Linked DNA regions of Homo sapiens: region 2 is linked to region 1. A link means that fine-mapping ties the variant in region 1 to the expression of a gene that starts in the linked region. Tissue or cell type: stomach. Region 1 holds a variant in brackets; the other region holds the start of a gene. All regions are shown on one strand. Distances are from middle to middle.

Region 1 (2,908 bases):
AGATCTGCTGGGGCAGGTGAAGCTTGGCTTTTAAATTGAGAGTTGAACGATAAATAAGAGTTCAAAAGGGCAGGTAAAGAGAATTAATTCTAGGCTAAGAACCACCTGTGCAAAGGCACTAGGGTAGCGAGTACAGTGCCTTCAGGTGTTAGATACTTTACTATCATTGGGTCGGAAAGAGGCAGTTACCAAAGATGAGGCTGGAAAAATAGGTAGGGAGTAGATCTCCAAGGCCTTTTAAAGCATGCCACGGAGGTAGACATTACCTGTAGACCAACACTTCTTAAATTTTAATGCTCATATGACTCATTTGGGGACCTTGTTAAAATATAGATGCTAGCTGGGCACAGTCGCTTGCACCTGTAGTCCCAGCTACTCAGGAGGCTGAGGCAGGAGGAGTGCTTGAGCCCAGGAGTTCAAGGCTGTATTACACTATGATCATGCCTGTGAATAGCCACTGCACTCCAGCCTGGGCAGCATAGATAGGTCTCAGGTGGGGCCTGAGCGTCAGCTTTTCTAAAATGCCCCAGATGATGTCCTGCTACAATAAAGTTGGTCTACAGACCATGTGTTAAGTAGCAAATATTTACAAATTACAAATTCTATTACCTGGAATGAATTCTATATACTAAGACATACCTTCAGCCCTTGAAAGGAACTGGGACACGATTCAACTAGAGCTTCCAGGATGGTGAATTCTGCCTATAAGTTGCCTCCTGGGTTTACTGCGGGTGCCCTACAAATGCAATAATTTTTTTCGACATGTTCTATGATGTGAAGACAGTGGGGAAGCAATGTAGCACAAATAATCCAGTCAGTACTATAAGAACCACAATTTGGTTTTTTCGGCTGCGGGGAGAGGAGTGCAAACAGTCCCAGTTACCCAAAGCAGCTGATATTCATTGTCAGCATGGCCCAGAGCCTTTTTCCCCCAGTAGTAATCATTTGGAGATTGAAATCTTGGCTCCAGTTCACCTCTGCAGTGGGACTTAATTCATGCCAGACTGTGGTGGTTTCTGCAGCAGTCCAACTCTGCCAAGGCTCAAAGTCCAAAGATTCTGTCATGCAGTGGCAACAAAGGAGGAGTAGAATTAAAACATAAAACTCTTGTTCTATGACCTTTCAGTTATTATTGCTTAATTATTTTTATGAGATTATAAGTCATTTTGCCAAGTCACTCCTTAGCCCTTTTTGAAACTGTGACAATGATTACTAATTTGGTCACTTTTCCTAACAACCTATAATAGATATTTGGAATAGGAAAATGTGAGACTGTATGAAATGAAAGAAATGTGAATTTCTGTGGAGTCAGTTGGCCTTTAGGTTAACGTTGTATATAAGTATGTGTGTAGGAACATAGTCACACATATGAGATTGTACCTGCAGGTCAATTTCTAGAAAAGAAACTGCTCACAGGTGTTGCCTCTGGAGAGAAGTGGGGAATGGGAGAAGGGTCAGCTCTGCGAGATCTTTTGGGCAATAGTACTTCTTCTATTCTGTTTTAAATTTTTTTCTAATATGATGGCTTAACTTAAAAAATACCAAAGAAAGAACTGTCTCAATGACTGAAAAGTA[T/C]GATAATACTTGCAGGTTTGGGTAATATAATACCTTTCCTCTGGGTCATCTAGTATTGAAACTCTTTTTGTACTGTGTTTAAGGAGAAAAGATTAATGCCTTTAGGTCCCCTGAAGTTTAAGCCCAGTTTAAGCTAAATTACCTAAAGTTTGTTAGTAAGGAAACCAATTTTTGAAATAAAAAAATTCCCCGTAAGAATTTTTTTCAGTTGTTTTCTCAGTTGATGATTTTTGCCCCCTCTTCAGACAACAGTGAAACATAAAATGAGATGCAGCATTACAAAACGAAAAGAACTGGAGGGAAAAACATTTGCTTTTGATGCAGTCAAGCATCTTCATTGATGCCCTTCTGTCCACTTTCTCTCTCCCCCAACTATAATATCATAGAATGCTGAAGGAAAGCACATTCCAGATACATGTTGTGTAGACTAGCAACATTTAATGGATAACTTCCATTATGCTATTACAAATTTACAAGCATAGAAGAAGCATTATCTTCCACAAATACTATGAGTATTAAACACTCAACAGTCATAACCCAGTTTGCAATCTCCTATGACTTACATAAAATTTCATCTTAATAAATTGCAGTGAAAATAGATGGCACACGGGAGGTAGGACTAAATTGCAGCTCCGACTCAGAGCAGCATGCAGAGGCTCTCATCATGAATTTTGCTCCAGAACGACTGCGAGAACAAACCAGAAATCCAGAGAGGACCCACAGAACATCTGAAGAAAGTGGACTGCTCCTGCAGGACCCAGGAGACACCCAAATACTGTGCTGGAATCTATGGCTGAGAGACTTATAGACGGTTCACATCGCAGGACTCTGTGAAGACAACCTGAAGTACCAGCCTGGAGCCGGGTAGACTTGCTGCATGGCTAGACTCAGAAGAGAGATAACAATCACTGCAGCTCAGCTCACAGGAAGCTGCATCCATAGGAAAAGGGGAAGAGTACTACATCAAGGGAACACCCCATGGGACAAAAGAATCTGAACAGCCTTCAGTTCTAGACTTTCCCTCTGACAGAGCCTATCAAAATTAGAAGGAACTAGAAAACCAATTCTGGTAATATGGCAAAACAAGGCTTTTTAATATCCCCCAAAAATCACACTAGCTCATCAGCAATGGCTCCAAACCAAAAATTTACCTGAAAAGGAATTCAGGAGCTTAGTTATTAAGCTAATCAGGGAGTCATCAGAGAAAGGCAAAGCCCAATGCAAGGAAATCCAAAAAACGATGCAAGAAGTGAAGGAAGAAATGTTCAAGGATATACTTAGCATAAAGAAAAATGTAATAAAAACTTTAGGAAACATTGGACACACATAAAAA
Region 2 (2,908 bases), 25 kb before region 1:
CAAGTGCTTCAATAATCTCTGACAATTTAACTGCATTAGAGCCAACTGGTTTTATCATTGTCAGTGGGTGTTTCGATGCAGTCTCTTGCTGCATCACTCAAATATGTGATGAAGAGCCATATCACCTCCCAACTGTTCACAGATTTGGAAATAAGATAACTAAACCTCACAATTCACATCAAAGAATACAGAATATTCACATCCTATCTCATTTCACAAAGGGTTTGGCACCTAATTCAAAAGAAAATCTTGTCCGGGATATCCAAAATAGGTTCTTACATTCCATTTTATGTATAAATATGGTCAGTTCAGGTTTACTTGTCACTGGGGGAGGATCTAAAATCATTTCCATTTTCTTGTACATAAAGCAGTGTCTTGAATCTGACTTTTTAATCACAATGGACATAAAGTATTTCTTACCCAAGAGAAAATTTAGTTCATCTGTCATTGAGGGAGAAACAAACTGATTAAGTGTGATGTGGCGGCTCCCTCAATTAAGCAGTTCCTCGAGAAACTTCGGAAGAATTGCACATTCGACACCTTTAAACAAAAACACTTGTAGGCTGACAGCTGCCGGGGCCCCGGCCCGCCCCCCGCGGGCAGGCGAAGCCGGGGAGGAGCCTCTGGCCCAGGCGGCGGCAGCCGGCCGGGCCCGCGGGGGTCAAGACGCCTAGACAAAGGGCGGCCCCGCAAGCGCGAGGGACGCGCCCCAGCTTTCTGCCCGCACCCGACTCCCAAACGCTAATTAATTCTACAGCCTGAGCTCCATTAGAGAGACCCTCCATGATTCCCCCGAGGTGCTCAGGTGGGCAACCATCGGATTTGCGCTCTTCTCCGGCCCAGGGGACCCCACGTCCGGCTCTCGGGGATAGAAAGGGGACGCCCCGGATTGCGGAACCTAGCCCCGGGCGGGAGAAGGCGAAGAGGAAGCGGGATCCCCACACGCCTGCCTTTGCTCTCCCGGGAGGAGGCTCCCTCCGGGCTCCCGGCGGAGGAAAGAGAAAGAGCCGCGGTCGGCACACCGCCCTCGAGGTGGGGGCGGCGGTCCCCTCCGCACTCACCGGCGAATCTGAGCCATCGCCCTCCATGGCTGCCTTCTGCCAGGTGTCATCAGCGGCACGTTCCACTCACACCGGCTACCGAGCGCAGGGTCTGGTGGGCGGGTCCCTGCGGCGGCCGTGGAGCCTCGGTCCGAAGCTGGAAGATGAGCTGGTCAGCTGTACGTGGCCAGCGGACCGACGCGGGGAGAAGTAAGCCGGGGCAGGCAAAAGCACAGGCGCGGGAGAAGCGAGCTTTGCTCCCAGCGACTACCCCGGGAATCCCGCCCAGCTGCCGGCTGCAGCAGCGGCTCCTGCGGACTGCGGCTGGGAACGGCGCCGCGCAGAGACCTGGGCGGGGCACCGCGGGGCGTGGACAGGGCGTGGCCTGGTCGTTGCCCAGGCAACAGCGCCAGTCGCACAAAAGAGGCGGGGCCGCCTGGGGCTGGTAGGCCGGGTGTCTGAGTGGTAGGCTGAGCGGGACTCGGCTGGGCGTGGGTGTGGCACGCGGTTGGGACTCGGCGCCCTCCGCCGCCACCTTCCCCCTACGCATCAGCCCCTCCCTCCCACCCGGGTAGTCGCCCGTCGCCCTATGCCAGGCTGGGGGGCTCTGAGGAACGGAAGTGAGGGCAGCGGGGAGCGGTGGGCGGGTGCCGAGGGCGGCGCCGGGGCGGGGAGGCTCCGCTGCAGCAGAGCAGCCGGCTGCAGCCCTGGCCCCTGGCCCCTGGCCCTGCGCTGCCATTCCGCCCTTCAGTTTGCTCTCACTGCGCTTTCTTCACTCGCGGTTCGAAGCCCCGCTTCCAGGCTCGGCACAGGACGGTGCGGGCGAGGGCGAGCCTAAGCCACCTTCCCTGAATGGCCGCGGCGAGCACGGCAGAGCTGCGCGAGGCGACCAGAGTGAGACCCCGCCCGCCCTCTCCGCGGTCCCTAGCCAGGCGCGGCCTGGGGTTCCCTGGCCCCGCCCGGCTTGTCCCAGTTCTCTTCTGGCTTCACTTGCTGGGTGAACTTAATAGTCCCTGACTGGGCACCGAGCAGTCATATCCCGCTTTCTGCTTCTATACCCCCAAGTCGCGATGTCACCGCACGTTCTTGCCCAGTAGCGCGGGGACCGCCTGCAGGGTGGAGATTCCTCTCCCGGATGCTGGCCAGGGACTGAAGTTAAAAGGCCGCGGCAAGGGAGAGACCCCCCGCCACCCGGGCCTACGCTTTCCTTCCTGAGGGCCAGGACAGAGGGTCCTGAGCGGCTCCGGCACCCCCGCACCCCCGCGGGGAGTGCTGCTGAACGTTAAGGCGCGCGCCAGCTCAAGGACTGGCGGCGCACATTTCACCTGCCACGGCCCAAGTGTGTTTCTGGTGTTGTTTTCAGGACACACGGAGAACAAATTAATTTAGGATTATTAGATCACGCACTGCCTTTCTGGCTAGCTAAACAATTCATTCCTATGTATTAGGCTTTAAGAACAGATGCCCTAAATTGCTGGGTAAGTAGGGACTACAGAGCTGTAGCGAGACATCTCGTTTAGGTTTTAAAATGCTTCCCACTTTTATTTCCTGTTTGGGAGAAGTCTGTCGCTGTGGCAAGTTCCGTCGTCTTCCCACAGCCCTGTCTGCAGCGGTAGCCTCGTCTCCAATCCGGCATCTAAATAAGGAGTGTAGAATTAAAAACACTGAGGGACTATAGCAATTTTCTCTAATGGAATACCCTCCATTTACAGATGAGGTGAACAGAGGACGAAAGCTTTGCCAGGTAATAATGCCTGGGCTGTTCTGATCCGGATTAATGCCCGTTGCGTGGCCGCAGGTGCTAGACTTGGGAAGGCTTCCTTCCCACAGGTTCTGAAAAGTGCTAATCAGGAGGAGACTAACAAATG

Direction of the effects. Alleles are on the strand shown, and positions count from the first base shown. SD is a standard deviation of normalised expression in the study named.
With allele T in place of C in region 1, the expression in stomach of the gene that starts at base 1,362 in region 2 is lower (small effect, 0.20 SD a copy in GTEx).

What was found.
Region 2: TRIM36 starts here. The variant in region 1 is fine-mapped to the expression of TRIM36 in stomach (GTEx, PIP above 0.99).

Annotation. Positions count from the first base shown.
Region 1 is chr5:115,193,879-115,196,786 of GRCh38, forward strand. No RefSeq gene overlaps it. Among named protein-coding and RNA genes, the nearest start is that of TRIM36, 25 kb to the left of the region's middle. The variant T/C (reference allele first, on the strand shown) is at 1,576.
Region 2 is chr5:115,168,547-115,171,454 of GRCh38, forward strand. It overlaps TRIM36 (tripartite motif containing 36), which reads right to left and starts at 1,362. Exons shown (of 10, transcript NM_001300759.2): 1 at 1,062-1,362. The coding sequence starts at 1,088. RefSeq lists silencers at 538-627, 1,358-1,777.